7 linked regions of the Homo sapiens genome follow. The protein of the gene in region 1 purifies or fractionates together with the protein of each later gene. This does not show direct contact. Each region holds a gene or a part of one and is shown in the gene's direction. Other genes may lie near its edges.

Region 1 (3,500 bases):
GAGTCATATTCCAATAAATGTAAACATAGGGCAGTTTCTTATAAACGCAAGGCATTATTGGTATGCTAATTGTATGTTCCACTTTCTGCATGCTTAATCATCACCTTCCAGCTCCAATAAATTGTACCTTAATTGCTGAGGATGTATTATAGTCTTTCTATTCTTAATATCTCAGTAGAAGAAACATTTTTAAAAGTGCTCTGATAATATTGCTTACGTTGTTAGATAAATGGCTAATTCTTTTCCAAACGTTAGACACAGCAGTTATAGTTGCACAACCTGGTATTAGCTTTAAGTGGTTTTCCCCACTCCTAGTCCTGTTAGCTATCTCTTATATGATTGAGTCTATCTTTTTATGGTGCTACCAGTCAGAGGTCATTTCTACAACCAAAGTCACCTTGTATTAGAGAATAATTAGTTGGCACAGAGTAATTCACATTTATCCTCACATTGTGCACTGAATATAAGATAGAGAAGTAGTTAACAGAAAAATACTGGGGATGAGTGCACAGTTTTCTCTTCTTTTGTAGAATGTTTTCAATACAACTGATAAAATTATTTTCACATGCTATAGGTAGCCCTAATGGAGAACCTTGTGGAAAGACTTGTTTGGAAGAGAGAGACAATCAGTGGTTGGGGGTCACACTTTCCAGACAGCCAGGAGAAAATGGATCCATCGTGGTAGGTATTGGAACTGGTCCACAGATCCATCGTGAAATCAGCTATCCTGGGTGCAGCTTTCACATCATTTGGTCTACTTTTATTTTATTCAGACTTGTGGGCATAGATGGAAAAATATATTTTACATAAAGAATGAAAATAAGCTCCCCACTGGTGGTTGCTATGGAGTGCCCCCTGATTTACGAACAGAACTGAGTAAAAGAATAGCTCCGTGTTATCAAGGTAAGGCATGATTTTGATACGAATTAGATAAAGATAAGTAAGTGAATACCTTTTAGTGTTTTAAATTTATGTTCAAGTTTAGATGTTCAGAGGAGAGGGAGATCTTCTAAGTAATTATGTTCTTTTTAACTACTCAATTTCTTTCTTTACCCAATTGCAATAGCATTATTTTTCATAAATGCACTTTGTGCTATAAAAATTCTACAATTTGAATAACTCTGAAATCTAGCTCTTTAACTACCCACTTTTGCATCAAATTTACTTTCAATTTGGTATAGGTGAGACTAGTACCCAGCAAATATAGGACATTTAAATTGTGAAATTATATTGGAAGTCTGATTAAAAAGAAAGACTTTAGGTTTCCTTTTTTACCTTTAGCTTCCAGGAGTAATTGGGAAGAATAATCAGTGTAAGCAAATCTTTCATTCGCACTCACTATCTCTTTTTCTAATTTACATGTTTTCCTTCAAGCAGCAAGAGATTCGTGTCTTGAGTTTGAAACATTTTTCTCATGGTAACTCTATGCTATAGGTAGCATCAGCAAGTACAGAGCTAGGACATAACAGAAGTGAGCAGAATTGGGGTGAATGTCAACAGAGCATGTCAGAGGATATCTGCAGCAAAACTAAAATCCAACAATGCGTCTTTAGGAGCTAAGAAACATATGAATGCAAATTCATAATTTTCTAACCACCCTCACTCAAAAAAAATCCCTCAGCACGCAAAGAAAAATTTTATTGGTTGGCAAAACTTTGGCCAAGTATTTGAGTTCAATTATGGGTGCTAATAAGACTTTGGTCTTTCTTCCTTGGAATGTGATGTCACAGAGCAGCTTATATTACATATATTCCTATTTTGCCTTCGGATACCCAAAAGATAAAAAAGTGAATATTGATTCTCAGTTGCAATAAAACTCAGTCTTGATTTCTGTATGTTTGCTGTCTTCTTTTTCCTAATAGTTTTCGGTTTATCTTTAAAATATTTTCATAGTAGAGTTTTTAGTTTTTCTCGGATATACATAGCCACATACTACAAAAATCTCAAGATGCCATAAACCTAACCCATCTACAATTGTAAAATACAGGATCAGGTAAGATATATTTTTTTAAAGGGATGAAAACTCCTGACCAGAAATGGTCATTATAAATGACTTACCAATTTATTGAAGTTTTCTGCTTAGCAAAGCCAAAAGGAAGCTGTGGTTCCAATTCTTATTTTCATAGAAGTTTACTTATATCATTTTTTGGAAGAAGCAAAGCTTTGCCCCCTTAGAAAGTTCCAAAAGCATTCATTCATGGGACTTTGTAATAATAGACCTTTATGTCCATGCAGATCTTGATTCAGTCTATATTTCAGTTGGGCAAAATCTAAGAAAGGACACTCTCTTCAATTAATGGTGTTAGCAATAGCAAAGACATGGAATCAACCTAAATGCACATCAATGTTGGATTGGATAAAGAAACTGTGATACATACACACTGTAGAATACTACACAGGCATAAAAAATAACGAGATTATGTCCTTTGCAGCAACTTATATGGAGCTGGAGGCCAATAACCTAAGCGAACTAACACAGGAACAGAAAACCAAATACCACATGTTCTCACTTATAAGTGGGAGCTAAACATTGAGTACATATGGACACAAGGGACACAAAGTAGGCACAAACACTAGGGCCTACCTGGTGGTAGACGGTGGGAGCAGAGAGAGGATTGAAAAACTACCTATCAGGTACTATGCCTATTACCTGCATGGGGAAATAATCTGTACATCAAACCCCTACAACACGCAATTTATCTATGCAACAAACTTGCACATGAACCCTGAACCTGAAAGTTTTTTTTTAAATGCCTTTGGGAAAATTGGCTATCTGCGTGCAAAAGAATGAAATTGAACGCTTATCTTAGCAAATATACCAAAGTCAACTAAAATGGATTAAAGACTTAAACACGATACCTGAAACCATAAAATTTCTAGTGGAAAACATAAGAGAAAAGCTACTTGACATTAGTCTAGGCAATGAGTTTTTGGAAATTACACCAAAAGCTCAAACAACAAAAGCAAAAATAAACAAATGAGACTATATTAGAAAGCTCCTGCATAGCAAGGGAGATAATCAACAGAGTGAAGAGACAGTCTGCAGAATGGGAAATAATATTCGCATAAGTCCTATATATTTAAAATGTATAAGGATCTCACCAACTCGATAGCAAAAAACCAAATAACTGATTAAAAATTAGTCAAGAGACCAAATGGCTTTCTTTCCAAAGAAGGCATCAAAATGGCCAATAAGTAGATGAAAAGGTGCTTAACATCACCAATCATCAAGGAAATGCAAATTACAAACCACTATGAAATATCACTTCACACCTATTAGAATTGTCATTATCAAAAAGGCAAGAGATAACAAGTGTTGGCGAAGGTGTGAAGAAAAGGGAACCCTTGCACACTGTTGGCTGGAATGTAAATTGGTACAGCCATTATAGAAAACAGTAGAGAAGTTACTCAAATTAAAAATAAAACTACCATATGGTCCAGCAATCCCTCTTCTGGGTATATATCCAAAGGAAATGAAATCAGTACCACATAAAGAGATC
Region 2 (3,500 bases), on another chromosome or scaffold:
TGATTCTCCTGCCTCAGCCTCCTGAGTAGCTGGGACTATAGGTATGTGCCACCATGCCCGACTAATTTTTGTATTTTTAGTAGAGACGGAGTTTCACTATGTTGGCCAGGCTGGTCTTGAACTCCTGACCTCATGATCTGCCTGCCTCGACCTCCCAAAATGTTGGGATTACAGGTGTGAGCCACTGCGCTTGGCCACTTACCTGCTTTTTGTTACTGTAGATTAGTTTACATGTTAAGAACTTTACATAAACAAAAACCACATATAAATATAAATGCACTTTCTTTTCCATAGGCTTCTTTCATTCTGCATAATTTTGCATTCATGTTGGTGAGCTTTTAATTCTCTCTCGTGGTCTTTTTTTCTCTCATTTTGTATAAACTTTTTGAGCTTGGCCAACATGTTGAAACCCTGTCTCTACTAAAAATAAAAAATTAGCCAGGCATCTTTAATACCAGCTCCTAGGGAGGTTGAGGCAGGAGAATTGCTTGAACCTGGGAGGCAGATGTTGCAGTGAGCCGAGATCGTGTTACTGCACTCCAGCCTGGGCGACAGAATGAGACCCTGTCCCGGAAAAAAAAAAAAAAAGTTGCAAACATAGTACAAAGAGTTCTCGTATCACTTGCCTGCTTCTCCTGTTGTTAACATCTTACATAACCATAGAAAAATTATCAGAGATAGATGAACATTTCTGCAACAGTATTCACTAAACTATAGATCTTATTTTAATTTTTACCTGTTTTTTCCACCAGTGTCCTTTTTCTCTTCTAAAATTTTTATCTAGGATCATCCCATGATGCATTTAGCTATTTCTGTCTATTTGTTTGCCATCTGCAGTAGTCTCTGTCTTATCTTTTGTGACCTTGTCACTCTCAAAGAGTAATGATCAGTTATTTTGTATAATGTTCCTCAATTTGGGTTTGTGTGATGTTTTCTCTTGGTTAGACTTATTAGGTATTTTTGGCAAGAATACCACAGAAATGATACTGTCTTTCTCAGTGCCTCCTACCATGGGATTCATATTGTCAGTATGTCTTATTGGTGATATTGTCCTCCATCAATTGGTTATGGTTGTGTCTGTAGGGTTTCTCTAAAGTTACCTTTTTTTGGACAGTTAATATATATTTTAGGGGAGATACTTCAAGAAGATGCAAATCCTGTTTTTCCTCAAACTTTTGCCTGCTCATTTTCGCATCCATCTGTGGGTCTTGTCTGTAACAGTTATTATTGTACTTTTGCCTCATGGTAATTCTCCCTCGCTCTGTCACCCAGGCTGAATGCAGTGGCACGGGTACGATCATGGCTCACTGCAGCCTCGACCTCCTGGGTTCAAGTGATCCTCCCACCGTAGCCTTCCAAGTAGCTGGGACTATAGGCATGCACTACCATGCCTGACTAATTTTTTATTTTTTTGTAGAGACAGAGTCTCAATATGTTGTCCAGGCTGGTCTTGAACTCCTGCACACAAGCAGTCTACCTGCCTCAGCCTCCTGAGGTGCTGGGGTTATAGGCATGAGCCACTGTCCTGGGCCTGAGTATGTTCTTTTGTTTGTTTTATTTTTATTTTTTATTTTCATTTTTCTTTTTTTTTTTTTTGAGTACGTTCTTGAATGGAGAAGTTGAACTGTCTCGCACCTGCTAAATCAGTTTTCATTGCAGTTTATTTAATGCAAAGTATATTTCTGTAATTTCTTATATTCTTAGAGCAAAGCATATCTGATTTAAATTATGTTTTGGTCAGGCGTGGTGGTTCAAGCCTATAATCCCAGCACTTTGGGAGGCCGAGGTGAGCGGATCACCTGAGGTCAGGAGATCGAGACCAGCTTGGCCAATGTGGTGAAACCCTGTCTCTACTAAAAATACACAAAAAAAATTAGTGGGGCATGGTGGCGGGCACCTGTAATCCCAGCTACTCGGGAGGCTGAGGCAGGAGAATTACTTGAACCTGAGAGGCAGAGGTTGCAGTGAGCCGAGATCACACCACCGCACTCCAGCCTGGGTGATGGAGCGAGACTCCCCTTTTTTTCCTTCTTTTTTTTTTTTTTTTTTTTTTGAGATAGAGTCTTGCTTCATTGCCCAGGCTGGAGTGCAGTGGTGTGATCTCAGCTCACTGCAACCTCTGCCTCCTGGGTTCAAGCAATTCTCCTGCCTCAGCCTCCTGAGGGAGCTGGGATTACAGGTGCCCGCCACTACGCCCCACTAATTTTTTTGTGTATTTTTAGTAGAGACAGGGTTTCACCATGTTGGCCAAGCTGGTCTTGATCTCCTGACCTCAGATGATCCGCTCACCTTGGCCTCCCAAAGTACTGGGATTACAGGCTTGAGCCACCATGCCCAGCTGAGAATCCCTATGAAAAAGCAAGGCCAGACACTGTGTCTCATGCCTATAATCCCAGCACTTTGGGAGACTGACGCGAGCAGATCACTTGAGGTCAGGAGTTCGAGACCAGCCTGGCCAACATGGTGAAAACTTGTCTCTACTAAAAATACATAAAAAAAATTGGTGGGGCATGGTGGCGAGCACCTGTAATCCCAGCTGCTCAGGAGGCTGAGGTGCGAGAATCGCTTGAACCTGGGAGGCGGACATTGCAATGAACCAAGATTGCACCACTGCACTTCAGCCTGGGCGATAGAGCGAGACTCATTCTCAAAAAAAAAAAAAAAAAAAAAAAGATATTTTAAGTGATGTTTTAATAAGCTGCATCTGTTTTCAGTTCATTTATGTGTATAATTCAGTATTTGCCATACAGTAGACCCTTGGTATTTTTAGATTTTATATTTGTTTTAACTGTTTTGACTGATTCTTAAGGGCAGTCAAATTAATAGTTTATAATTTTGCTGAGATGTAAATTTGAATCACATGTGCTGTGGGGTTGGTTTTTCAATCACATCATTAGGTACACTGAGTTCTGTGAAGTTTTACCTTACTGCATTTCCTGGGCAGTTGAGCAGTCATTTTTATCTTTTTAAAATCTTTTAAAATTTATTTATTTATTTTTATTATTTTTTGAGATGGAGTCTTACTCTGTCGCCCAGGCTGGCATAATCTCGGCTCACTGCAACCTTCGACTGTCGGGTTCAAGCCATTCTTGTGCCTCAGCCTCCAGAGTAGCTGGGATTACAGGTGTGTGCCACCATACCCGGCTAATTTTTGTATTTTTTGTACAGACGGGGTTTCACCATGTTGGCTAGGATGGTCTCGAACTCCTGAGCTCAAGCAATCTGCCTGCTTCGGCCTCTGGGAAAGTGCTGTGGAATTATAGGTGTGAGTTACTGGGCCCAGCCTGAGCAGTCATTTTTTACTGGGGACATACATCAGAGTCACTTGTAAAGCCTTTTGAAGTACAGATCCCTATCTGTTGGCCCTTCAAATCAGAATCTGCAGGGATGGGTTTCAGCTCTCTACATTTTAAAAGTTTTTCCAGGTGATTCGGTTGTGCCTGCTTAAGAACGGCTACAAAAATTTTTGTGAGTTGGGGATTTGCAGAAATTGCAATATG
Region 3 (3,500 bases), on another chromosome or scaffold:
TAGAACAGAGCTGAGCCCATTCCTGTTGCTCCGTCATGACTGCCTCCCCGACCCCGGGGAGGAAGGCAGGGCTCAGCTCTGCATGGAAGAATGTGTGCTGCTAATTGAGGTTGAATCATTTGGCACTTAATTTTCACTTTCATTTGAAATCCTCTCTTCGGTAAACTGGCGAATCCAGCCTGGGATTCCAGTGGACAGGATGACATCAGCCTCCCTAGCTGTGTGCGCCAGGCCCCACCAGGTTCTGCCTGGCCTCTCGGCAGCCCCATCCCTGCTCCTGCCGCTGTGTGTGTGGGTGCCTCATGATGTCCAGTGGCTCAAGCCTCTGCCTTAGCTCAGGCACCCCTTCTGTTGGGTATTCTGTTCCCTCCTGCTCCACCTCTCCCTGCCCCGTGACACCTCCAGCTGCCTTCATCTTTCAACCAATAGCACGGTAAGGGCCTCCCCTCCTGGCTGATGTGCCAGTTTCCCCCTCTGTTCCCCTCTGGCCCCTCCCTAAGACTTCTCCAAGAGGGTCCCTCCCTCCCTCCCTCCTTCCCTCCCTCCCTTCCTCCCTCCCTTCCTCCCTTCCTTCCTTCCTTCCTGACGGAGTCTCGCTGTGTCACCAGGCTGGAGTGCAGTGGTGCGATCTCGGCTCACTGCAACCTCTGCCTCCCGGGTTCAAGCGATTCTGCTGCCTCAGCCTCCCAAGTAGCTGGGACTACAGGCATGCACCACCACACCCAGCTAAGTTTTGTATTTTTGGTAGAGACAGGGTTTCACCATGTTGGCCAGGATGGTCTCGATCTCTTGACCTGGTGATCCACCTGCCTCAGCCTCCCAAAGTGCTGGGATTACAGGCGTGAGCCACCGTGCCCAGCTGGGACCTTTTATAAATGCAAATCTGATCTCATCACCTCTGCCTGGCTTGGCCCCTTGCTGGTTCCCCATTGCCCTGAGAACCAAGACCTGACTGGTCCGTGCCCCTATGACATCAATCCTTTCTCACCCCCAAGTCACTAGCCATGCGTGCCCTGTGGTCTCTGGGTTCCTTGAATGCACCATCCTTCCTCCGTGGGGGTGGGCTTCGGTGGTGGTCAGGTGATACCTGGGTGCTGGGGCCCCTTCCACCTGCCCCATTCCCCTCCTCCACTCCATTCTAGGGCCAGGCCTCAGAGTTCTACAGGCACTAGATGAAAACATGGTCTCTGCTCTCTCCAACTCCATTTCCAGCCATGAAATAGCAGCGATGCTTACCATGTGGGCCTTTCTGAATTGGGTAACAGGATCTAGCCTTGCTCTGCCACCCACTGGCTGGGAGATCTTGGGCAAGTCCCTTCCTCTCTGTAAGCCTCAATTTCTTCATCCGGAAAATGGGGTGAGGGTTGCCCATGGTGGTCTGTGCATAAGGTTCCTCTCTGGTCCTGGCTGCCTGTGGGTCTCTTAAGTAAGGGGGACCCTCAGGGGTGTCACACCATTGACACATTCCTGCACCTGTCCCTCTGGTCCTCTGGGGAGGGGCCCTGTGGCAGGGGCATTTGGGGACATGGAAAATGAGACTGCTTAGCTTCTCAGCATCTCCCAGTGGGGTGGCTTGAACATCCTCTGTTTTTTTGGATTCTCCTAATGGCTCCAAGAAATAGGTATTTTCCCCTCCACATTAAAGAGATTGAGGCTCAGAGAAGTTAGGTCACTCACCCAGGGTCACACAGCCAGGATGTCCTGGCTTCCCAAGGAACTCTGTGTTCCCGCCCAACAAGAAAGGTCCTTGACCTCTTCAGGCCTCAGTTTCCTCATCTGTCTAATGGGGGTAACTTAAGATCCTTTTGTCTTGGATCACATGAGACTTCAAGACCTAACATACAAAGACCCTCAGCCCCCTGCCTGGCCTCAGAGAAGGTGGCTGTTGCTTCTCAAGGTCCCAGCTCTTTCCCCATCACCGTGGCCCTGAGATTCCAGGGATGACCCAGAGGAGACAGGTGAATCTTGTGGGGCTTCTTGGCACTAGCACTGTGGCTGGACATTAGAGGAGAGAGTGTCCAAGCATTTCCCAAAAGTGTGTTTCTGGTCAAAACTGGAAAAACAACACAGGTGTGGCTTTTCCCATCATGCCTCACTGTGTCTCCCTGGACAGCGCCTTCTTCCTGAAATCCCACAGCAGTGTAGGTGGTACCCAGAGTAGGTGCACGCCAGCACCTGCTGTGCACCAGACCGCGGGCTGGCCCCAGGGTGCAGCGGCAAACAAATGAGGCTTAGTGCCTGCCACCTGGGATGCTGAGTTCCCCAAGGAGTGCTGGTTTAGGTGGGGTGGTAGCCCCGACATGGCTGGAAGTCAGGAAAGGCTTCTTGGAGGAGGTGACATTGAGCAGGGGCTGGAGGGATGAGTAAAAGTCAGCCAGCCTGGCAGTGGGGAGGAAGAGAAGGGAGAGAGGAAGGAGAGTGGGAAGTCAGGGGCCACTGTTTGCAGGCACTTTCCAGACAGGCGGGAACAGGGCCGTTTGAGGAACTGAGAGGTAACCAGGAATTCTGTCCAGGGCTGGACAGGCAAAGTGTATTAAAAAGGCTGGGCTGCCCACTTTTTGGGGGTGTGGGGGACTCCTCTCAGGAGAGGTGTCTTTTGTGTTACTCTGAAGTGTTAGCGCTTCTGCAGCCTAACATTGAGTAGCGTTCTCTGAGGACTTCCTGGAGGAGGTGGTTTAATTCCCTTCCACCTGCATTCACTGGGTGACAGGCCTGAGACTGTGGAGAATAAGCAGGCATCGGCCTGGCCCACACAGAACCCACAGCCCTTGAAGGGGTGGAGACTCACCAAGTGCCTGCTCGTGGTCCAGGCAAAGTAGTCACCTGAGAGAGGGAACCATGGGCTCTTTACAGGTAGAGGACGACGAAGCTCCGCCAGAGAGGAGGACTTGTCTGGGCAGGGTTTTGAAGCATGAATAGAAGTTGGGAGTGAAATGGGGCTGGAAGCGTATTCCAGAGGGAGATACAGACAGGATCAAAGGCTTGGAGGGCTGGGCAGCCTGGAGGGTGTGGGGGCCAGAGACCAGGTTGGTGAGAACATATGGACAGCTAAGGTGGGAAGGACATTCTGGGCAGGGGCTTTGTGTGGACCAGCACAGGGAGGTGGGCAGTGTGAGCCTTTCCCGGGAAACGGCTTGGCTGGTGTGCGAGGGGAGGAGTAGGAGGAGAAGTCAGAGGAGCCGGAGGTCTCAGTGGACCAGGTCAGGGCCTGTGTGGGGGACCACAGCGGGAAAAGTGACAGTGATTCCCTAACCCTCAGGGGCAGGCGGTGAGGGCATTCCCGGAGGCACAGCTGTGGCCTGGGGCAGTGAGCACTGGTCGTGGTCACTGGTTTCTGGTTTCTTACCTAGTTGGGTCACTCACTGGCTGTGTGGCCTTGGGCAAGTCACTGCATCTCTCTGAGCCAAGTTTTCCCTTCCACAGCGTGGGTAGCCAGCACCTTCCTCGCGGGGATGTGTGTAGCAAGAACTGGCTTGCAAAACCTCCCCTATTCCGAGCTT
Region 4 (4,060 bases), on another chromosome or scaffold:
GCACTGATCTCTTTACCAGGCTTCCCCTTAACCCTCTGCGCAGAAATTCGGGGTTTTTCTTTGTGTTTGAGACAAGAGTCTCCCTCGGTCTCCCAGACTGGAGTGCACTGGCGCAATCACGGCTCACTGCAGCCTCAACTTCCAGGGCACAAGCCATCCTTTTGCCCAGCCTCCTGTGTAGCTGGGACTACTCGGGAGTCCCATCTACTCCCGTGCGCTGCCATCACGCCCAGCTAATCTTTGTATTTTTTGTAGAGACAGCACCTCACTATGTTGCCCAGGCTGGTCTCCAACTCTTACGCTCAAGCGATCCTCCCCCTCGGCCTCTCAAAGGCGTAAGCCACCGCGGCCAGCCTTTTTTGGAACTTAAAAAAAAAGCCATAATGTGTCATTAGGAACCTTGGTGACATGACAGCAAAACCAAAATGTACTTATTTATTAGGTGTCACTTGGAAGCGCAATTTTCAACAACGCAAAACTATAAAAAAAACCCAACGTCGGCCTCCACAGGCTAATCAGTCTCCGAGGCACTGACGGCGGGAGAGATGAAAACGCGAAGGCCAGAGGAGAAAAAGAGGAAGGATTTGCAGAGAGAACGGTAACGTGGTGGACATGAATACACCCAAGAAACCCGGATCCCGCGCGGCACATTGGGACGAAGCGCGCTGGCGGGCGGCCAGCAACTCTGGGCCAGGGGAAGGAGGCGGACACCCAGCCCGAGAGCCGAAATCGGCCCCAGTGGACGCTTTCATCTTCGCGGCCCAGAAACACTCCTATTTTTCACCGCACAATGCAAACATGGTGGACCAGAAAATCCGCCCCGCGTTTGCCGGTCGAACCACGTGGGGCCCTTTCCGCGCCGTCGATGCCTAGCCAGGGCGGGGCCCTCACAGAATTTGTTCACGGTGGGGGCAGATCACCGGAGAACTTCTCCAGAGCGCTACGGCACGGTTCCTTCTACACACTGGCAGAACTGCCATTGCCATCGCCCCGAGGCGGCAGAATGGTACGCTCTGAAAACTGGATGGTTCTAACGTAAGCAAGAAAAACGGTGCGCGCTGCAGCTCTTTAACTGGAACAGCCTCTGCTCGGTCTACCTCGCCCCCAACAGCTGCGCAACCCACCACCGCGCAGGCGCGCTGCGTGCCGCCAGCGCCATGCGAAACCGACTTTCCCGTCTCGCGAGAGTGGGGCCGGCCGCCTTCGCAGTTCTCGCTCCGCCCCCCACTTCTTGCTCGTTCCCTCCCATCCCCCCAAGCCAGTAGCTGTGCTGCGCAGCTCCCTAAGCGGTTGTCACCGCTGGAGACGGTTGGGAGAACCGTTGTGGCGAGCGCTACACGAGGCAAACGACTTCTCCCTTCTTTGAACTGGACCCCGCGAGCACCAGAGTCGGCGTAACTATCGCCTGACAGGGTATCTGAAGTAAAAGGGGGTAGGTTGGGCTGGTGGTTTCGAGAGCGGAGTCGGGAGAAGGACGAAAGGCCGGGAGGGGCTGGGTTGGGGGGTAGTGGGGTGGTCGCCGCTCGGAGGCCGCCGCTTGGAAGCGGCGGGGCTGCGCCTCCCCGACCATCTCCCACTTCAGGGAGGGCGGCTTGCCGATGGGAGGACTTGCTCAGGTGGAATTCAGTGGACGACGCCGAGGCCCGAAGTAGGGGACATCCAGCATTTTCCCCTTTCCCTGCTGGCTTGGCCTCCGCCATTTTGGGTACAGTGGCGCGGCCACCTCGGCTTCCCGCCCTTCCCCGCTCTTTTTACTTTTTTGTTCCCCAGCTTCCGAAAACTGATCTAGAAGGCCAGGGGAGGGGGTGGTCAAAGCTCCCTGGAAGGGATGAGGGTGGGTAGTGAAGCGAGCAGGGAAAGGCCGGGCAGTTGGGTGGAGGGAGGATCGGGTTTGCCGGGCGCGCTCCCGATGGAAATGGCGCCGGATGGGCCTGGCCTCCCACCGCGGCCTCCCTTCCTCCGCAGTCTCGGCAGGGCTACCTGGGCTGACGGGACTGCGAGTGACTTCTGACGCAGATTCCCAAGATGAGAGAGGCTGGAGCTGGGGGAGGAAAGCCAATGGCGACGAAGGTGCTCAACTCCCAAATCCAGGACAAAGGAGGCAGACGGCCTCCTTTGTAATTCTGCCGCCCGGTGGCGAAGGGTTTTAAGCCAGGCTTGGCTGCTGACGGGAGGGGGAAGGGGCGTACTCTCCCTAGCTTTCTGGTCTCTAGGGCAGCTAGATAAACGGAAAGTCTCCTGGGAGGAATAAAGGACGCTTAGCCGGCCCTTATATTCCAGATTTGGAACTTCGAAAAGAGTACGTACTGATTTTCCAAAGGGTTTTTTTTTTTTCATGTTTAAACGTTAATAAGGACTTCGGGGATGATTTTGTGAGCAGAAAAGTGGGTGATTTATCAAATAGGAATGTGAAATGGGCATGTTTCAAGTAGGTCGTCTGGGCCCAGTGAACTATAATTGTTGCTTTTTGAACTTTCGGGGTGGGGGTGGGTGATGTAGCAATTGTTTTGCGTAGTTTGGCGTATATATGTTAGAATTTGTTTTTAAGTTTTACTTTTGGGAAACAGTTAAAACAACCCAGTGATGGTAGATGTGTGTGTATTGAAATTGAGCTTTCGATGTTAAATCTTCCAAGAGTTGTATTTTGTGCAGTTTTTTTTTCCGATGGCATTAAGGCTCTAGAAGTAAAATACTTCAAAATACGGTTATGGTTTATTTTCTTTTGGTAGCTAGGCATGTTTTTTCTTTAGTGTAGGAGTATAGTACACTGTAATCGTATTTTAAACAAGGGAATAAGCCTACTAAACATAAAAACAAATTGTAAACCCAGTCACGTGGTGGTGGTGTGATTCGGATGAGGGTCCTGAGAACTGGATCCGTAATTTTCATTGAAGACAGTACAAAAGGGAGGAGAAAGGCCTGAGAGTAAGAATTTCTGATAATTCATGTAAAACTTTATAAGAATATTGTTACCTACTTTTCCAGCTCTAAAAACAAAAACTTATTATTATTGAAGATGTTCAGTGATGCTTTCTCAAGATTGCCAAGGAAAAGTTTACGAAAATCTTACCTTGAAACAGTAGGTTTGAGTGACCCTTTGAAGAGATAGTCCAGACTGTCCTGTAAAGTTATATATGATATAACAAATAGCTTTACTAATTGGATTGGACTACACATCTTTTTTCTGTCCTCTTTTCATTTGTGCCGTTATCTGGAAATCCATCTAATTGCCTTTTTAAAATAATGTTATCTTTGATTTCCTTGTTTTGGTAAACTGACTGAACTGCAGTAGATAAAAACCTGGTTCTAGTGAACTAACATTTTAGAGACCTTACCTCCTTAAGCTATTAGGGGTGTGTCTAGTTTTTTGTTTTTGTAAAGAGCAAGCCCATTGGGAAGGAATGATGTAAATTTTCTGTTAAACTTAAATCATCAGCACTTTTTCCAAAAAATAAAATTCATTCTCATTTCTTGACCACTGGGCTACCATTTAGAAAGTTATTTATTGATGTAAAATCCTTTATGTATTACTTCAGAAGATAGGCTATGCCTCCGTGTTAAGAGGATTCTCTATTTCATTTGTTCTTTAGTGGATTTTTTTTCTTTAACGACTTTGGTATATAATTCACATACCGTAAACTTCACCAATTTTAAATGTACAGTTTAGTGGATTTTAGTACATTCACAGCGTTGTGTGACCGTCACTACAATTTAATTTTAGAACATTTTTGTCACTCCAAAAAGATATCCATACCCTTTACTGGTCATTCCCATTGCTGGCATCCTCCCTCCCCTCAAGCCTCAGACAATCATGAATAGAAATGGAATCATGCAATATGTAGTCTTTTGTGACTGGCTTGTTTCACTTGGTGTAATGTTTAGAAAATTATACTTAAAGTCTCATAAAACTTGACCAAAGCTATCCTCATATTTTAACTGTGGTATCTTTTATTGGTACTAGCACCTAGAATTCTTAAAGCAGAGTAGTGATTAGCCATGACATTGTTGCAAAGAAAGGTTGAGGTGGATTATCCTGAATAATTAGTAAACTGTTTTAAGT
Region 5 (2,367 bases), on another chromosome or scaffold:
AGAAGAAAGCCAGGACTAGGGTCTGGGTCAGACTGGACTGTGTGTGTTTCTCTCTTCCAGCTTCAGCCCAGTAGCTCCCCTGAGAACAGCCTGGATCCTTTTCCTCCCCGGATCTTAAAGGAGGAGCCCAAAGGAAAGGAGAAAGAGGTTGATGGTCTGTTGACTTCAGAGCCCATGGGGTCTCCCGTCTCCTCCAAGACAGAGTCCGTATCGGATAAGGAGGACAAACCACCCCTGGCACCATCAGGAGGCACTGAGGGGCCAGAGCAGCCCCCACCACCTTGTCCAAGCCAAACTGGCAGCCCCCCGGTGGGCCTCATCAAGGGAGAAGACAAAGATGAGGGCCCTGTTGCTGAGTGAGTGGAGCGGGGTGGGGCTCTGGGAGGATGGCAGGAGGGATGAGAGCAAGCCGTGAAGATTTACTGTACTTTCTCTCACAGACAAGTAAAGAAATCAACGTTGAACCCTAATGCTAAGGAGTTCAATCCTACAAAGCCTCTGCTGTCTGTGGTGAGCTGGGACAGGAGAATGTGGACTTTGGTTTCTGTGGGGAGACTTGGGCAGTGCTTATAGATGAATAGGGGGAGGAACACTTCACTTCCAGGACCACTTGCCTGGCAGGCAGTGTGAGGAGATGTCATAAAAATGTAAGGATGGCACCTTTGGGGCTGGCTTGGGGAAAATGGACTCAGGTCTCTAGGTTTGGGTGATCAGGGGATCAGGGATCCCAGTGAGTCTGATGAGGGGTTAACAGGCTTTTCTTTGGTTCTTGGCATTTGGCTGAGGGAGTATTGGAGTGGGGTAGTCATGAACAGAGGCCAGCTGACTTGGCTTGAGCCCCTGTATTTGGAAGGTTTGTGATCTTGGACGTCACTTACATTCTCTGCCTCACCTGTAACTTTAGAATACTCATCTCCTCATAGGGTTTAATGTGAGGCTTTATCAAGATAAGTGCAGAATATGTTTGGTATGCAGCATTTCACGAATGTTAATTATTACCACTCTAGGCATGGCCAGGAGTAGAGGGGAAAATACAAAATAAAATTGTCCTCCCTTGTTTTTGCAGAATAAATCCACCAGTACCCCAACTTCTCCGGGGCCCCGGACTCATTCAACTCCCTCCATCCCGGTGCTGACAGCAGGCCAGAGTGGGCTATACAGCCCCCAGTACATCTCCTACATACCTCAGATCCACATGGGACCAGCTGTGCAGGTATGCAGAGAGACTGGCCGGGCCCAGGGTTAGCGGGGTGGGATTTGGTTGCGCTGGTTGAGGGACCAGGTCAGGCCTGTCTGGGCATTCGTGAGCGAGTCATTCAGCCTCATCTGTGTCCTCATCCCCAGGCACCTCAGATGTATCCATATCCTGTATCCAATTCAGTGCCTGGGCAGCAGGGCAAGTACCGGGGAGCAAAAGGTGAGCAGGGCTGGGAGGGGCAGGCGGCGAGGCTGCCAAGGGCCTACTGGCAGGTGGAGCTTGAGCTCTCCTCTCCTCCTCCTCTTCCAGGCTCCCTTCCTCCGCAGCGCTCGGACCAACACCAGCCAGCCTCAGCCCCGCCGATGATGCAGGCCGCCGCGGCTGCTGGCCCGCCTCTGGTGGCTGCCACGCCCTATTCTTCCTACATCCCCTACAACCCTCAGCAGTTCCCAGGCCAGCCAGCCATGATGCAGCCCATGGCCCACTACCCCTCACAGGTGACTGCGGCCCAGGAGGGCAGTGAGGATCCAGGGCCCCTGCTAGGGATCCCATCTTCTCCAGAGACTTGGGAGCTGGCTAGGGGTGGCAGGCAGTGTTGTAGGTGGGATCGGCCCTCTGTGGTATTGGCGGTGTCAGACTTGGGCTTGAGCCCTGGCTCTGGTGGTACCTGTAACAAGGCATTGGACATCTGTATCTCTGAAGTGTAGAGAAAATAGTGTCTGCTGGGTGGGATCGTTATGAATGTTGAATCAATAGGGTGATTGTGAGGAGGCCCAAGCGGTGCTGTGCACGCAGTGACTGGCAGGAGGACACCTTCCCAGCTGGCGGCTGTGCCAACCACTCCTCTCTCTGTCCCGCCAGCCGGTGTTTGCCCCCATGCTTCAGAGCAACCCACGCATGCTGACGTCGGGCAGCCATCCCCAGGCCATCGTGTCATCCTCTACCCCTCAGTACCCTTCTGCAGAGCAGCCTACCCCCCAAGCCCTTTATGGTGAGTCCTGCGCCTGGTCCCTCTGCTCTGGGCTGTGTGCCAGCCCCCTCTGGTGTGCTCAGCACTGGTTCTCCCTCTTTCCTGCTGCAGCCACTGTTCACCAGTCCTACCCACACCATGCCACACAGCTCCATGCCCACCAGCCGCAGCCGGCTACCACGCCTACTGGAAGCCAGCC
Region 6 (3,500 bases), on another chromosome or scaffold:
CATGTTATTGACAATCAACAAAGGTGGCGGGATCCCTGGAACAACAACAACAACAAAACATTGCTAGTATCTCTTTCTATCACTAAGAAATGTTCAAATTCTAGTAGCCTTAATTTCTACTCTATGTGCAGGGATGTCCTAGAGATCAGCCTAAAGTCGTTCATAATTTCTTTGAGGAATACAAAAGAAATCTAGAATTAAGAAGGTCCCATTTTACTGCTTGCCACACATAATGGGCAGAGTCCTTCATATGAGCCCTTTAGGCAAAGGAAAAAAATCAGCAAGCATGTATTGATGGTCAGCAATGTAAATAGCACAGCGTTAAGCATCAAAGGAGATGCAAATAAGCCTATGAATGGTCCTTGCCAAAGAAGGACTTATATTTCCGTTTTATGTCACTGTTGGCTTTTGTTCTGACATTGGGTTTGGGATTTAGTGACTGTCTTTCTCCTGGTTGTAATATTTATTCGGTGGTGGGCATGGCTTATGGGTGTGCTTTATGAAGTTTTTGCACCTGCAACTCAGGTCAGTACCTTTCTTAAAAGAACACAAAAGAAATAAACTTGAAACAGTCCAAGTGATTTTAGATATGGGCAATGGGTCAACCTCCAGTTGATATATGTCACTGAGGGCCCTGTGTTTGCCCAGGCAAGCGTTTCCTTGGTGCAGTGATGAAAATCCCAATGCACAGGTGAAATTAAGAAATAACTTAATAATGGAGTAAAATGGTAACTTTAATTTAATGACCTTTACAAGGTAGCTAAGTATTTCCTTGTATAAATTTGATCTGTGTTACTTGAGTAGGCTATTCTAGATAGGCTTCTTTTTCTTTTGTGGTTACAACTAGACTACAGGCTATCATAGTGTTCATTTTCCCTGCCGTCACATTTCTTGACACACAGTTAGGTGCTTTTGGTTACTGATAGGAGCATTGGGATTCAAATATTCTTTTTTCCATGTCTCTGTGTTCTCTGGTTTTCTGGAGTGACTGGGAGCAATGCTGCAATTGAGCCTGGACAATCCAGGATAGGCAAAGTTTTGGCTCAGTCTTCACCTTGCCACTTTACCTTTGATGATTATACTGAGAAATAAAGGGTCTTCAGAACCAAATAGGGGCAAAATAGAATTCTTCTGTATATTTCTATCAATCAGAGGAGAATTGTGTGCACAAACCTTGGTCTTCCTATGCACCTATCCATCTGACTCTACTCTAGCTAGATTTTCCTTGCTAGCAGATAACAGGATTTGTACCGTAGCTTCAAATTAACACTGGATTCATTCCTCATTGAAACAGAGCAGAGTAATTCTCAGAGCTTCTCTACATCACATGAAGGCTTGGAAGAAGATAAAGACCATCCAACAACTTCTACTCTGACATCAAGCAGTAAGGATTATAAAACCTAGTTGGCTTCAGCTATTGATAAGAATCAATCAATTATGGGTACTTTTGCAGTGTCTTTGGTGGAGGTGCATCCATTAGCTGCCGTTACACTGTTACTTTTAATCAAAAGGTGCGTCTGGTGGTGGTTCTCTGATTTTTCTGTTTTATATACCTCTTCGTACATTAAGTGCAAACTACATTTCTTCATCTTAAAAGTTGGGTTTCTTTCACTCTAGAGTTAGTGATTTGTTTTAACAATAATGGATTGCTTATATATGATTTATTTTATTTATTTATTTTTGTTAACTTGAGATCTTTCTAACTTTTTTATGTGGGCGTTTAAATTTAGTGCTATAAATTTCCCTCTTACTACTGCCTTAGCTGTGTCCCAGAGATTCTGATATGTTGTATCTTTGTTCTTATTAGTTTCAAAGAACTTCTTGATTTCTGCATTAATTTCATTATTTACCCAGAAGTCATTCAGGAGCAGGTTATTTAATTTCCATGTAATTGTATGGTTTTGAGTGAGTTTCTTAGTCTTGATTTCAAATTTGATTGCGCTGTGGTCCAATAGACTGTTTGCTATGATTTCAGTTCTTTTGCAGTGTGATTTATAATTGGCGTAAATGTCTGATTATATCACTTTACATTCCTCACAATAATATTGTTTTGCCTTTTGTCCTCTGGACCTCCATGGTGCTGATGACTAAAAAGCAGTCCCTTCTGGAAAAGAAAAGAATAATTAAATTAGTAGCCTCAGGCCTTTGAAACCATGCATTTGCTATTTTAATTGCAGGCAGCAAAATTTTATCTTTCAATCCAATGATATGTTTCCTCCACTACATCAAAGATGAATCCAATTGAGAAAGAACTCAAGATTATCTAGTACCTCAGCTGACTTCAAGATCACAGTTGTAGTGACATAGCCTTACCTAATAACCCAAGCAGATGTTGCAACAAATGCCAATTCTGGGTATTAAGATCACCAAAATCTCTTCTGTTGAGTGATGTCCAAGTAGTGTCTATTGCAAAATATTTATTCTGTTCAATAGTATGACAAACTTCACTCTATTTCTCCCTATTTATGGATAACAAGTGGAAAGCTTTTGCAGCAATTGTGTGTTCTGGAGACAAGCACATGGTGGGTGGTGATCTTACAAATACGGGTTCATCACTGATTCCACCTCCACACAGATAGGAATGATGTCACAGGTGGAAGAAGAGACCCAAATCATTCTGAAGGCTCAACTACTTTACTGGAAGGTTATACCTCTCATTACCCACACACGAAGGAAAGCAGGACCTTCATCCCAGTGACCTCAGCTAAGACTGGGTCCTTTGGAGTTACTGCAGTTACTGTTGGAGATTCCAACTCTAATGTCAATCGTTCCTTATCAGGTAATTTGGCATTTATTATCTAGTTTGCTTTCTCTATATAGAGAAACAATATATAGTTTCATATTACAGAGGACATTTTCTGTGTAGTCTGGGATTGGACTAGTTTGTGATATGGAAATATCTTTCATTATTGGTTATCAATTCTAGTGCAAATAAACTTGGGTATATTTTAGATAAAAGAATGCTTCCTTTTGCCAGTGTTTTTTCCATTTGTCTGTGTTTGCATGTGTGTGTGTGTGTGTGTGTGTGTGTGTGTTGTGTGTACAAGTTGGCTGTTATGATGGAATTGCTTTCTTTGTCTTATCTTGTGATATATGAAGTTGAACCACATGAAACTGATATTTTTGCAGGTGAAAGTAGTCGAATTTTAGCAATTCCGTTTAATTCGACTAATATACTCTACTTATTTTGTAAGGTTTTATCCTACAGGTGAATAATTTCTATATACTAGTATCTTTGCTCTGAAATTATTATCTTGTTTTGGTAATAGATTGATCAGTTTTACTTTTGGTGATGGATAAACCTCTTCTAGTTCTGATGCACACTTAAAATGTTCATGATTTAATCTAGTATTAATGAATAGGGACCACTTCTCTTATTGTAATAGTGAAGAGAGGAACGAAGATAATTTATTCAATGAAGTTTGACACGGACCTAGAATAAGTCTTTTTTTTTCTCAAATAAGTAGTCATCTCTGCTTCTGCTTTTCTTTGCTTCTCCA
Region 7 (3,500 bases), on another chromosome or scaffold:
AGCCCAACCCCAGAGAACCAAAGGTATGACCTGATATTCAGTGGCCCCAGCCAGGTCTTTACAGGAAGACCCTCATATCTCAGGTCTAAGAAGAGCCAGCTGATGGTTTTTAAAAAGAGTGGAATTAGTTACTCCAACCCACTTATTCAGATCTTATTTTGTTCACAATACAGTCCCTAGATTGTAGGCCCATTGGAGGCCACAGCAAAGCCTTTGTGTTCCAGTTGGCCTGATGTGCCATCTCTCAGTAATGTTCCCTTAACAGCCAGACTTCCCTAAGCCCAGCTGGGAGCTCTGAAGGTATGCGAGCCCTCCCTCAACCATGAGTGTAGGGAAAGGGACCAGGGGCCCCAGGCTTTCCTGTCAGTAATGCAGAAGTTCCTCAGATTTAGGGAAGGGGGAGCAGAGGCATAACTTTGATTCTGACAAAGAGGCATTCAGAGAGACTGAAAGGTCATTTAACAAACACTGGAATGCTTCCACATACTAGGTGCTAGGAGATACAAAACCATATAGGTCCTGGAAGGGAGGATTGATTTTTTCATTTTGGTACGTAGTAGATATTAGGGGCTTAGGAAATACACATCGAAATGAAGAGTGCATTTGCCATGTTGAACCGTTAGCCGGTATCTTATTTCCCCATTTTAAAAGTTTTAGAATCTGTGGTTGAGGACTTGTGGCCATCAGTTTTCCATAGCCAACAGACTGTTCACTACTGCCTTCAGAGCTCCTTGGACCTCAGCGGGCCTTCTTTGGAGATGGCAGAGATGGATTTAGATGTATACTCTACTCGAGCCACCCAGAGAGCCCACAAAGTCAGAGATGGAACAGGGTAAAGGAGTAAGGGTCATATGTGTGAGATGCCTTGATTTGGAACTTTGAGATTTAGGATGAGGTGGGGAAGGGCTAAAGAGGAGCTTGTTCCTGAGCCTTGCTTGGCCGAAGCATTTAGGCTCAAGCGTTTTAGAAAGAGTAGCCCTTGGTCTGAGAACTCAAGGAAACAGCTTTCTGATGAGACGTGTAGCAAGCTTCTGGTTCACATCCTTACCTGATAGTTCTTCAAACACTGCCTGGTCTGGTTCACATCCTTACCTGATAGTTATTCAAACACTGCCTGGAAGCTTCTCCTGAGTTTTTGTCTCTAATCAGCTAACTAACAGGCTGAGTGAGTTTAGTTGTAAGTCATTAATGAAGAAAGCAAAGGTTGGGGCCATTGTCAGGGTTGTGACCTGGGCTAGTTAATTACCTGGAACTGATGGTCTGTGTTACAGAGTGGTGGTATACTTGTCAGGCTTAGAAAAGAAATCAGGATGTGTATCAAAAATCATTTGGGGAAAAGATTTGACCAGCAACTTTAATTTCTCTATGTTTGCAACTATCCTGTTAATGTAGTTGTGATAATTTCAGAATTATACCAGTGCCCTTATGTTATCCTTGCTTTGCAAATTGCAAATTGCTTTGCGTGTCCTGACATCCTTCTGGCCAACAGTAGATGTGGTTTTAGGTTTAGACTCCTGGGATGGAAGCTTTTGCATTCAGGGGAATGACTTTGGGTTTGGGTGAGGATTGTAAAGAGGCAATATGGGTGCCCCACGACAAAGCAGCTATTTGTAGCTTTGTGACAGCTTGACATGCAGAGATCTAGGCTTATCAAGGCACTAAGCTAGGAGTCAGTTGTTTGTATCACTGGAAGATTGGTTACAACTTCCTTCATTGGAAGCTCCTTCAGTGCATGTTAAATGATGTTATTTATAGATAGGGTGGTGAGAAAGCTGTCTAGGTAGATGTCAGTCAGCCCAGTGTAAGAGAGACCTGCTTACTGTGGGTGCTTGGGACTATGTGGAGTGGGTGGGAGGTTTTAACTTGTTCAGTAAGGTCCTTTCCATTGTTCACAATCTGGTGAACCCTTTTTCTAACATGAGGAGCACCCACATAACCAGATCATGTCTGGCTTCCCTGTGGCTTGTGTACAAAGCGTGCTTATTGAGTTAATGTGTAAGCAGGAGACAGCCTTCTGTGCTAAATGGTATATTAACCACTTCTCAGTCTTACCACTCTCTTTCAATTTGTCTCGACCCAGGACCTCAGCAGCCATGTCGAAGCCCCATAGTGAAGCCGGGACTGCCTTCATTCAGACCCAGCAGCTGCACGCAGCCATGGCTGACACATTCCTGGAGCACATGTGCCGCCTGGACATTGATTCACCACCCATCACAGCCCGGAACACTGGCATCATCTGTACCATTGGTGAGTGGGTGTGCCCCTTCCCCCAAAAAAGGGCTTCATGGGCAGTGACCTTTCTCTCCTGAAAAGAGTAACTAAATGTCCTAACAAACCTAGGTGCTACATGGGATACTACACAGATTCTTATGAAAGGACTCAGGTCATAGGAAGTTGCAGTAAAGAATTAGTATGTGCATAGGATGGCAAATACAGTTAATAAGAGAGTATTAGACATTTCAAAATTGCTAAGATGGCGAGGTATGGTGGCTCCCAGCACTTTGGGAGGCCAACGTGGGAGGATTGCCTGAGCCTCGAAATTTGAGACCAGCCTGAGCAACTTAGACCCTGTCTCTCCAAAAAGTGAAAAAAAAAAAAAAAAAATTAGCTGGGCATGGTGGCATGCACCTGTAGTTCTGGCTACATGGGAGGCTGAGACAAAGATCACTTGAGTCCAGGAGATTGAAGTTGCAGTGAGCCATGATCACACCACTGCACTCCAGTCTAGGCAACAGAGCGAGATCCTGTCTTAAGAAAAAAAAATTGTCCGGGCGCAGTGGCACATGCCTGTAATCCAGCACTTCGGGAGGCTGAGGCAGGTGGATCACCTGAGGTCAGGAGTTCGAGACCAGCCTGGCCAACATGGTGAAATCCCATCTCTACTAAAAATACAAAAAAATTAGCCGGGGGTGGTGGCGGGTACCTATAATCCCAGCTACTTGGGAGGCTGAGGCAGGAGAATTGCTTGAACCTGGGAGGCGGAGGTTGCAGTGAGCTGAGATCTGACCATTGCACTCCAGCCTTGGCAACAAGAACGAAACTCTGCCTCAAAAAAAAAAGGAAGAAAAAAGAAAAAAACATCGCTAAGAGTAAATTTCAAATGTTCTCACCACAAAAATGTTAAGTATTTGAAGTCATGGATATGTTAACTAACCTGATTTAATTATTCCACATTGTATCCAAACTGTATGTATTGGATTACATAACTTTGTAACCCAAATTATAAATTACCAGTTTATAATAAAAAATAATTTGTTGCAAAAAGAATCCATATGGTTTAGGTTTTATGCTATAGGCAAAATTTAGAAGATGTTTTCCTTAGCAGGTCTTTGTAGGAGCAACTTAAAGACCTAGGAAAGATCTTTCTAACATGTTCTGTGCTACCAAGATTCTGTGGTTGGACATCTGGCTGGGTTTCAGTGAGGGTGGAGAAGGCTGGCCAAGTCTTAACCTAGGCTTTTCTGATACAGTGGGAGCCTGCAGAACTTGAAGGAAATGGT

The links.
Region 2: the proteins of ITGA4 (region 1) and DRG1 purify together in Homo sapiens (affinity purification with mass spectrometry, with the first as the bait; one study listed by BioGRID). This does not show direct contact.
Region 3: the proteins of ITGA4 (region 1) and RAC2 purify together in Homo sapiens (affinity purification with mass spectrometry, with the first as the bait; one study listed by BioGRID). This does not show direct contact.
Region 4: the proteins of ITGA4 (region 1) and HNRNPH3 purify together in Homo sapiens (affinity purification with mass spectrometry, with the first as the bait; one study listed by BioGRID). This does not show direct contact.
Region 5: the proteins of ITGA4 (region 1) and ATXN2L purify together in Homo sapiens (affinity purification with mass spectrometry, with the first as the bait; one study listed by BioGRID). This does not show direct contact.
Region 6: the proteins of ITGA4 (region 1) and CD44 purify together in Homo sapiens (co-immunoprecipitation; one study listed by IntAct). This does not show direct contact.
Region 7: the proteins of ITGA4 (region 1) and PKM purify together in Homo sapiens (affinity purification with mass spectrometry, with the first as the bait; one large-scale study listed by BioGRID). This does not show direct contact.

What each region holds. Positions count from the first base shown.
Region 1 is NC_000002.12:181,474,386-181,477,885, forward strand, and holds part of ITGA4 (integrin alpha-4 isoform 1 preproprotein), read left to right. Parts: intron 1-574; coding exon 575-681; intron 682-773; coding exon 774-903; intron 904-1,434; coding exon of another isoform or gene 1,435-1,466; exon of another isoform or gene 1,467-1,835; intron 1,836-3,500. UniProt on the Homo sapiens protein: Integrins alpha-4/beta-1 (VLA-4) and alpha-4/beta-7 are receptors for fibronectin. They recognize one or more domains within the alternatively spliced CS-1 and CS-5 regions of fibronectin. They are also receptors for VCAM1.
Region 2 is NC_000022.11:31,406,104-31,409,603, forward strand, and holds part of DRG1 (developmentally-regulated GTP-binding protein 1), read left to right. Parts: intron 1-3,500. UniProt on the Homo sapiens protein: Catalyzes the conversion of GTP to GDP through hydrolysis of the gamma-phosphate bond in GTP. Appears to have an intrinsic GTPase activity that is stimulated by ZC3H15/DFRP1 binding likely by increasing the affinity for the potassium ions.
Region 3 is NC_000022.11:37,234,270-37,237,769, reverse strand, and holds part of RAC2 (ras-related C3 botulinum toxin substrate 2), read left to right. Parts: intron 1-3,500. UniProt on the Homo sapiens protein: Plasma membrane-associated small GTPase which cycles between an active GTP-bound and inactive GDP-bound state.
Region 4 is NC_000010.11:68,330,804-68,334,863, forward strand, and holds the start of HNRNPH3 (heterogeneous nuclear ribonucleoprotein H3), read left to right. Parts: upstream 1-1,260; 5' UTR 1,261-1,413; exon of another isoform or gene 1,414-1,432; intron 1,433-1,980; exon of another isoform or gene 1,981-2,299; intron 2,300-4,060.
Region 5 is NC_000016.10:28,832,999-28,835,365, forward strand, and holds part of ATXN2L (ataxin-2-like protein), read left to right. Parts: intron 1-60; coding exon 61-356; intron 357-440; coding exon 441-510; intron 511-1,066; coding exon 1,067-1,213; intron 1,214-1,344; coding exon 1,345-1,417; intron 1,418-1,507; coding exon 1,508-1,695; intron 1,696-2,059; coding exon 2,060-2,189; intron 2,190-2,279; coding exon 2,280-2,367. UniProt on the Homo sapiens protein: Involved in the regulation of stress granule and P-body formation.
Region 6 is NC_000011.10:35,208,671-35,212,170, forward strand, and holds part of CD44 (CD44 antigen isoform 1 precursor), read left to right. Parts: intron 1-947; exon of another isoform or gene 948-1,294; coding exon 1,295-1,384; exon of another isoform or gene 1,385-2,104; intron 2,105-2,575; coding exon 2,576-2,779; intron 2,780-3,500. UniProt on the Homo sapiens protein: Cell-surface receptor that plays a role in cell-cell interactions, cell adhesion and migration, helping them to sense and respond to changes in the tissue microenvironment.
Region 7 is NC_000015.10:72,217,691-72,221,190, reverse strand, and holds part of PKM (pyruvate kinase PKM), read left to right. Parts: coding exon of another isoform or gene 1-23; intron 24-2,080; coding exon of another isoform or gene 2,081-2,093; coding exon 2,094-2,247; intron 2,248-3,500. UniProt on the Homo sapiens protein: Catalyzes the final rate-limiting step of glycolysis by mediating the transfer of a phosphoryl group from phosphoenolpyruvate (PEP) to ADP, generating ATP.